Linked DNA regions of Homo sapiens. The protein of the gene in region 2 interacts with the protein of the main gene of each other region in a biochemical or structural test. Each region holds a gene or a part of one and is shown on either strand. Other genes may lie near its edges.

What was found.
Region 1: the proteins of PSMA6 (region 2) and XBP1 form a complex in vitro, tested with the Homo sapiens proteins (one study listed by IntAct).

Annotation. Positions count from the first base shown.
Region 1 is NC_000022.11:28,797,770-28,802,009, forward strand, and holds the start of XBP1 (X-box-binding protein 1), read right to left. Parts: upstream 2,801-4,240; 5' UTR 2,756-2,800; coding exon 2,529-2,755; intron 2,309-2,528; exon of another isoform or gene 2,268-2,308; coding exon of another isoform or gene 2,191-2,267; intron 1,385-2,190; coding exon 1,288-1,384; intron 1-1,287. UniProt on the Homo sapiens protein: Functions as a transcription factor during endoplasmic reticulum (ER) stress by regulating the unfolded protein response (UPR).
Region 2 is NC_000014.9:35,312,603-35,316,626, forward strand, and holds part of PSMA6 (proteasome subunit alpha type-6), read left to right. Parts: intron 1-278; coding exon 279-457; intron 458-1,758; coding exon 1,759-1,853; intron 1,854-4,024. UniProt on the Homo sapiens protein: Component of the 20S core proteasome complex involved in the proteolytic degradation of most intracellular proteins. This complex plays numerous essential roles within the cell by associating with different regulatory particles.

The DNA.
Region 1 (4,240 bases), on a different chromosome or scaffold from region 2:
GAGACTCCATCTCAAAATAATGATGATGATAATAATAATAATAATAATATAAAATAAAAATAAATAACTATCTTGAACTGGCAGGTAATAATAAAAGTGGTAGTGGTGACTATAAATCCAAAATAAGTTAAAAAAAATCCCTGCTCCTGACTCATGATTCTTAGAAGAACCAACTAATGATTAAAACTTTAAAAAGCTCAATATATGCAAATTGACCAAGGGGTTAAAAAAACAATATAAATAATCTCTATGTATTCAAGATGTGTAATTGGCAACAATTTAAGATTGATTAACAGGTGGACCCTAGAGGGGGAAAGGAACCTTTAGTGAATTTCTGGCCATGCCAGGAAGAATGTAAAGTTTAAGCAATTATTTCCTATTAGCCCTTGCTAATTTCTTACTACAAACTCAATAAACATTGTTAAATCCATCTACTTTGAGATACATCTAGCACCAAATGCCACAAAGTCAATCACTTCTGCCCTCAACAAGCTTCACCACTTCACCAACTCTCTGTCCTAACTTAGATTAACTTTTTTTTTTTTTTTGAGACAGGGTTTTTGCTCTGTCGCCCAGACTGGAGTGCAGTGGCATGATCTCGTGATCTCAGCTCACTGCAACCTCCGCCTCCTGGGTTCAAGTGATTCTCCTGCGTCAGCCTCCGGAGCAGCTGGGATTACAGGTGCCTGCCACGACACCCGGCTAATTTTTGTATTTTTAATAGAGATGGGGTTTCACCACGTTGGTCAGGCTGGTCTCGAACTCCTGATCTCAAGTTATCTACCCACCTTGGCCTCCCAAAGTGCTGGGATTACAGGTGTGAGCCCCGGTGCCCAGCAAACTTTTTTTTTTTTTCTTGAGACAGAGTCTCACTCTGTTGCCCAGGCTGGAGTGCAGTGGTGCGATCTCAGCTCACTGCAACCTCCCTCTCCCAGGTTCAAACAATCCTCCCACCTCAACCTCCCGAGTAGCTGGGACTACAGGCACTCACGCTTGGCCTTTTTTTTTTTTTTTTTTTTGGTATATTTTTGGGTAGAGACGGGATTTTACCATGTTGGCTAGGCTGGTCTCAAACTGCTGGCTTCAAGTGATCTGCCCAACTCAGGCTCCCAAAGTGCTGGGATTACAGGCATGAGCCACCATGCCCAGCCTAGTTTAACTTTTAATCATATATTCAATTGTATTCTAATAGGGGCTGAAACAACTTGGGATGGGAAGCAAATATCAGAACATTCACCAAGGAAGGGTATACAATGGATAAAAGAGTTTGACCTTAAGTAGTTTTACCTCTTCTTCTAAATCTACCACTTGCTGTTCCAGCTCACTCATTCGAGCCTTCTTTCGATCTCTGGCAGTCTGAGCTGCTACTCTGTTTTTCAGTTTCCTAGGAAGAGAAGGAACATACCACACTGAGTCATATCAAACCTTATTTATGTCTTTATTTGAAAACTTTACCAGCTGGTGCTTTCATTTTTATTTACAGTATAAGACAGACTAATGATAAAATACACTTCAGGCTCCTCCCCTCAATAAAACAAAATAAAAAATACAGTCTTCTGTCAATCTAGCTCGAAGACCTGCTTTATTCTCTCCTATATTGCATCATCCGTCCACCTCAGACTCATCCCCGTCACAGCACTGGGGCTGGACACACACACTATTCATCTTGCATCATAAGGAACTTTCCTCTTTCCCCATCTATTCCCCCGCTGCTTCCTGTCTCCAGTTCTCTTAAACAGGATCCAACCTGGCCTCATTAATCTAGTGAAGGCTGCAATCTTGCTATGACATCAACCCTCCGTCCCCCAGTCCAATTTAGAAAAGGGAGAGGCTGATGCCACTCCCTGATCTCTAGTGTTGAGATCCTAGGCAGTGACCTGCTGATGGGTCCGTGTCTGTTGGAGGAGACACTTTTTTTTTTAAAAGAATTAACTCAGAAGAGACACTTCATAAATCACAGAAGGCACAATGATCACAAAAGAGTGAACATTTACGGAGGACTAAGTGCTAGGCACATTATATCCAAGTCTCAATCTCCCCAAAGACCTCATGAAGTAGGTTCCATTTTAAGAACGCAGATACTGAGCTAGACCAGTGAGCCTCGCAGAATTCCCAGCCCTTTCAACAGCTCTGTTATTTCAGCTCCGCGCCTCTCCAGAAATAGCAGTAAACCAAAACAGATTATTCGACCTCATGTCCGAGTTAAGAGGCTGAACCACCAGTCTGCGGCCACACAGCAAGAGGGCCTGGAAGACAGGTGCCCGCATCCCCAGCTCTGGTCATCTCTAACGAGAGAGTTAAAAAGTACAGAAAAGAGCCCTGGGCCGCCCTAGGTTCCCAGCGTGGCGGATCCGGTCAGTCCGGGCTTCCTGCCCCGCCCCGCGCCACGCTGGCACCGACCCGCCAGGCCAAAGGCGACGGAGCCCTGCGGGGCGGCCAGTGCTGGGTCCCCGCTCCCAGCCCCTGCCCCTGCCCCTGTCCCTAGTCCCGGCTTCAGATCTGGCCCCAGACCCCGGCCCCTCGCCCACCTCCTCAGCGCCTTCTCCTCGGGGCTCAGGTGCGTGAGGCGCTGTCGCTTGCGCGCCTGGGGCAGCCCCCCGCTCGCTGCCTCCGGGCTGGCCCCTCTCTGGGCTGGCACCATGAGCGGCAGGGCCTGGCCGGCCGGGGCTCCGGCGGCGGAGGCGGGCTGCCCCGACAGAAGCAGAACTTTAGGGGTCCCGTCGGCCGGGTTCGGCGCGGCTGCCACCACCACCATAGCTCCAGACTACGCACCGCGCACCGCGCGCCGCAGCCGCCCAGCGCCCAGCCTCGCCGCGCCCGGCCTTTCTACGGTCGTGGCCCTCCGCGATTGGCCAGCGTCGCGTGACGCACGGCCGAGCTCGGCGTCCATTGGTCCGGCCTGCCCGGCGGGGCGTTTCAGGACCGTGGCTATGGAGTCCGGCGTGGCAGCGGCAATCCCTGGCCAAAGGTACTTGGGGTCATTTTCCGCGGGGGGTTACGTGCGGGAGCGTGTCCTCCACAAACGGATTTTCCCCCCTTAAGCGGACTTATTTCCATCCGGAGTGACAGAATTTAATTCCAAACCGAGAGCTTTCCAGACTGACGAATTTTTACCGGGACTAACAGAGAATTACCTCAGCCTGACAACATTTTATCTCGTGCGCCACTTCGGGATCCGAGTGGAGCCGAAAGTCGAGATAGAGCGCAGTTGGGCCTTGGGTTCGAAAAGACTGGACAGAGGTTTCAGTGAGCCGAGATCGCGCCACTGCACCCCGGCCTGGGCGACAGAGCGAGACTCCGTCTCAAAAAAAGAAAAAGAAAAAAGCCTGGAAAGAAATTCTGCGGAATAGAAGTCTTTAAGAAATGAGATCGTGCCCTTTAAAACTAAGTTTAACAATAGTGAGGGCTTAATAAACGATAGGTGTTATCTCTGGGTTGGAGGGGAATACCTTCAATTTTAGTTTTTCGTTCCATTTCTAAAGTTTGTACTATGAGCGTGCATTTTTTTAAATTTAGTTTTATTTTATTTTTTAAATAGAAACGAGGTCTCACTGTGTTGCCCAGGCTGATCTCGAACTTCTGAGCTCAAGTGAACCTCCCGCTTCGGCCTCTATTATTTTTATTTTATTTTTTTTTCTTATTTTTTGAGACGGAGTCAGGCTCTGTCACCAGGCTGGAGTGCAGTGGCGAGATCTCAGCTCACTGCAACCTTCGCCTCCGGGTTCAAGCAATTCTCCTGCCTCAGCCTCCCGAGTAGCTGGGACTACAGGCGCCCGCCACCACACCCGGCTAATTTTTTGTAGTTTAGTAGAGGCGGGGTTTCACCGTGTTGGCCAGGATGGTCTCCATCTCCTGACCTCGTGATCGCCCGCCTCGGCCTCCCAAAGTGCTGGGATTACAGGCGTAAGCCACTGCGCCCAGCCTCTTGTTATTTTAAATGAGGGGACAGGAAAACGTCACATGTAGAGACTGAGACCCCGGGGTTGACCCTGAGCCCCCTCTCCGAGGGGAGGTCGAGGTTCCTGCCTGGCCATTGTGGCGTGAGGGTGGCCAGGTGTTTGTGAAAGAGGGGCCCCCAGAGAGCAGCACGGGAGCGATTTATACACACGAATATTAACATGGAGAAGTCCGAGAAACCCCCGTAAATATGCCTGTCCACTTTTTTTAAAGCAAATTACAAAATGTGAAATTCCCCAGAAATGCACAGCAATACCTTCTCTAACAAGTAATTATTGCTTCC
Region 2 (4,024 bases):
CAGCAAGGATTGGAAACACTATTTTTAAATTGTATTTGTAATTATTCAAACTATTTTTTTTAATCTGTGATAAATCCTTTTGTGAAATGGGAATTTACCTGTTACCTAATTTACCTGTGGTGATAACCTGTATTTTATCAGTTTTCTTAAAGGAAAATACATATCCTAAAATTGATGGCCAAAGTCATGATTAGCAGCAGCTATGTGACACCACCAAGAAAGAGGAGATGTCATTGTATAAAGCTAAAACATTTAATTAGGGTCTTTTCTCTTTTTAGGTATGATTTTAATTGGTATAGATGAAGAGCAAGGCCCTCAGGTATATAAGTGTGATCCTGCAGGTTACTACTGTGGGTTTAAAGCCACTGCAGCGGGAGTTAAACAAACTGAGTCAACCAGCTTCCTTGAAAAAAAAGTGAAGAAGAAATTTGATTGGACATTTGAACAGACAGTGGAAGTAAGTCAACCAAAAGGAGCTGACTTTTTTTATGCTATATAGAACAGTGAGGATCTTTGTATAATTTCTATACAAAGCTATTCCTGAATTACATCCCAGGATTCAAGTTGTCAACTTAATAATGAAATTGATATCATACAGCTGACATAGGAAAATTTGAGTTGCTTTTATTCACTTAATTCCTTATTTCGTAATGTATTTGAGGTGGCTTTCAACAAAACGCATATAATAGGAAAATATAAATAAAAATAGGAACCAGCTGGGCATGGTGGCACACACCTGTAGTCCCAGCTACTTGAGAGGCTGAAGCTGGAGGACTGCTTGAGTCTAGGTGTTCGAGGCCAGTCCTATTTACTGCCAAGAAATTAAAAACAAAAATTTTAGTAGATTTTGGGTGTAAGTCTGGAATTAAAGCCATTCTGAAGATGCTAACAACATGCTTCTGATAAGTGACCAAAAAAAAATTACCATCTAATGCTTTTACGTTTGGTTTGGAAGTATGCTTAAAGGAGATAAAAAGCTAGTTCATGTTCAGGAAGTACTGGGCCCTGTCTAAATATTTCTTAAAGGTTTCTTTTATTGCAATTCATAATTAATTACATAAATAACCACATCCGGTAAAAAAACACTTAAGGTGGCTCACACCTGTAATCCCAGCACTTTGGGAGGCAGACAGATCACCTGAGGTCAGGAGTTTGAGACCATCCTGGCCAACATGGCGAAACCCTGTCTCTATGAAAAATACAAAAATTAGCCGGGCATGGTGGCAGGCGCCTGTAATTCCAGCTACTCAGGAGACTGAGTCAGGAGACTCGCTTGAATCCACGAGCCTGAGGTTGCAGTGAGCCAGGCTGGCGCCACTGCACTCCAGACTGAGCGACAGAGTGAGACTCTGCCTCAAAAAACAGAAACAAAACAAACAAACAACACTTAAAACATTCTTAAATCGTTTTTACTGTAAATTCCTTGAAGATGCAGAGAGTATCATTCATCTTTATCCTTTTCCCATTTCACCCCAAGTGCTAAGTGAAGTGTAGTGCCTGGGTCATGAAGCCAATAAACCTTTTTGTATAAATCATCCTATTTTAATTAATGGACCCCTTTATTATTTGACTTGGTAGAAAAAAATTTCTCATCATTGGGAGGCAATACATTAGAGTTAAGCAGTCTGTTAGTAACATTGAACTACCTCATTGAAACATGGAGCTCCTGATTGACTCATGATTTGAATAAGCTAGGAATGAGAAAACCTTGGAATCTCTAAAAAATACTATATTTTAACATTAAATACTTTTTTTCAGACTGCAATTACATGCCTGTCTACTGTTCTATCAATTGATTTCAAACCTTCAGAAATAGAAGTTGGAGTAGTGACAGTTGAAAATCCTAAATTCAGGTGAGTGATATTGTGGGCCACATGCAGACTAGAAAGGTGGAGGCGTGTGAGTCCATGTGTCCTATAACTTGTGGGGGAAATCTTTTTTCTTTAACTGTCATTATAGTTTTTGTTTGTGTGTTTGTTTTTTTCCCCAGCACCTGAGATCTGTTTTTAAAACTTTGGACTCTATTTAAGAGTCAGATATGAAAGCTTTTCTCCTTATTTCAGAGTGATTTTATATCTAACACCAGAGATGACATAAAGTTACCTTCCTTATGTAAGGAAAAAAATTAGCATAAGTGTTTTCTTTTTTTTAGTTTAAGGCCAATACAAATTCAATTCCCAAAGTAGTAGTTTGCAAGTTTTTCAGATAGAACTTTGGTTATTTAGTGGTTATTTAAGTAGAACTTTGAGGAGCAATATGAGTTACTGATATATGTCAGACCCTTATCTAGAGATCTTTGGAAAGCCCAAATTTTGAATACAGCTAATTGACTTGCAGTTGCTGGATGTGTGTGTGTGTGTGTGTGTGTGTGTGTGTGTGTGTTCTTACTCACTAAGTGACTAACTCCCACACATCAGCCTTATAGCTTCCATGATTCAAATCCATACTGAGTGCTTCGTATAATCAGCTCATTTAATCCTCCCAGCAGCCCTGTGAGGCAGTTGATATACCATGGACCAGGATGCTCTTATCTTTAATGAAAATACTGCAGTTAAATCGACAGATACAAGGAACTACTGGGAGGCATTTTAACTATTATGTGTATCTATTCTTAGATCACAACCATAAAGACACATGGTCTTGGTTGTGGTGTGGGGTACGGGAGTGGTAAACTAAGCTTAACTAGACCTTGAAGAGGTTTTTCGTTTGTTCTTTTTTTTCCTAATTTGTTCTTTTGGTTGCCCACAGATAAGTCATATAAACATGACAGATTCAGAAAAATTCATAGGACTTTAAAAAAAAAAAAACAGCTGGGTGCTGTGGCATGCATCTGTAGTCTCAGCTCCTCAGGAGGCTGAGGCAAGAGGATGGCTTGAGCCTTGGAGTTGAAAGCTGTAGTGCGCAATGATAGTGCCTGTGAATAGCCACTGCACTCTAGCCTGGGTAACATAGTGAGACCTCATCTGTTAAAAAAACAACCGACAACACCAAAAGCGAATCTATCCTAGCTTTTCTTCCCGTAGGAAGAAGTCTTGTAACTTGGGTTGGGGTAGGGGTGAGGGGTGGGGGCAGGGATCAAGTTGCTTTTGAAAAAGGTGCCTTTTTTTTTTTTAAGTAAAAATTTCAGCAAGAATAATCTTAAAATCTCTCTAAGGAACCTACAATTAGTTCTTGTTTTCTTTTCTGTTTGGAGACCTTCCTGCCACCTTTAAAATTGTATTTGTTATTTTTTAAATTGGTAAGGAATCAAAAATCTTGTCTTCAAAAAACTTTGTATCATTTATAAATTCTGTGATAGTAAATATATGTAAATAATTACAGTACATAGCATAAGCATCAACAACTATTTAAACTGCTTGATATTGCCTTCAGTTGCACTAAAAAATGTCCTTTTGACAAATTTCACTTTTTAGAAGTCTAGTAGTAATAGGTCACATTAACAAGGTTGCCAAACAATTGCTTCCTTTCGAGGCAAACATCATTTAGAAAATACATGTTCAGGGCCACACATGGTGGCTCACACCTGTAATCCCAGCACTTTGGGAGGCCAAAGTGGACAGATCACTTGAGGTCAGGAGTTTGAGACCAGCCTGGCCAACATGGTGAAACCCCATCTCTACTAAAAATACAAAAATTAGCCAGATGTGGTGGTGGACGCCTGTAATCCCAGCTGCTTGGGAGGCTGAGGCAGGAGAATTGCTTGAGCCTGGGAGGCGGAGGTTGCAGTGAGCCAAGATTGTGCCACTGCACTCCAGCCTGGGCGACAGGGTCAGACTCCATCTCAAAAAAAAAAAAAAAAAAGAGAAAGGAAATATATGTTCAACATGGAGCACTCTCTGGCTGGTAGACTATTCATAGAATTATAACTTTATTTTCATGAACTTCTGAATCTGAACACTTTAATATGCTTAAAATTTCTTCATGAATTTTTATCTTTGAGCTGACATAAATTTCAGTTATACTACATATAAATGTATTTTGACGGCTGGGCAAGGTGGCTCACGCCTGTAATCCCAGCACTTTG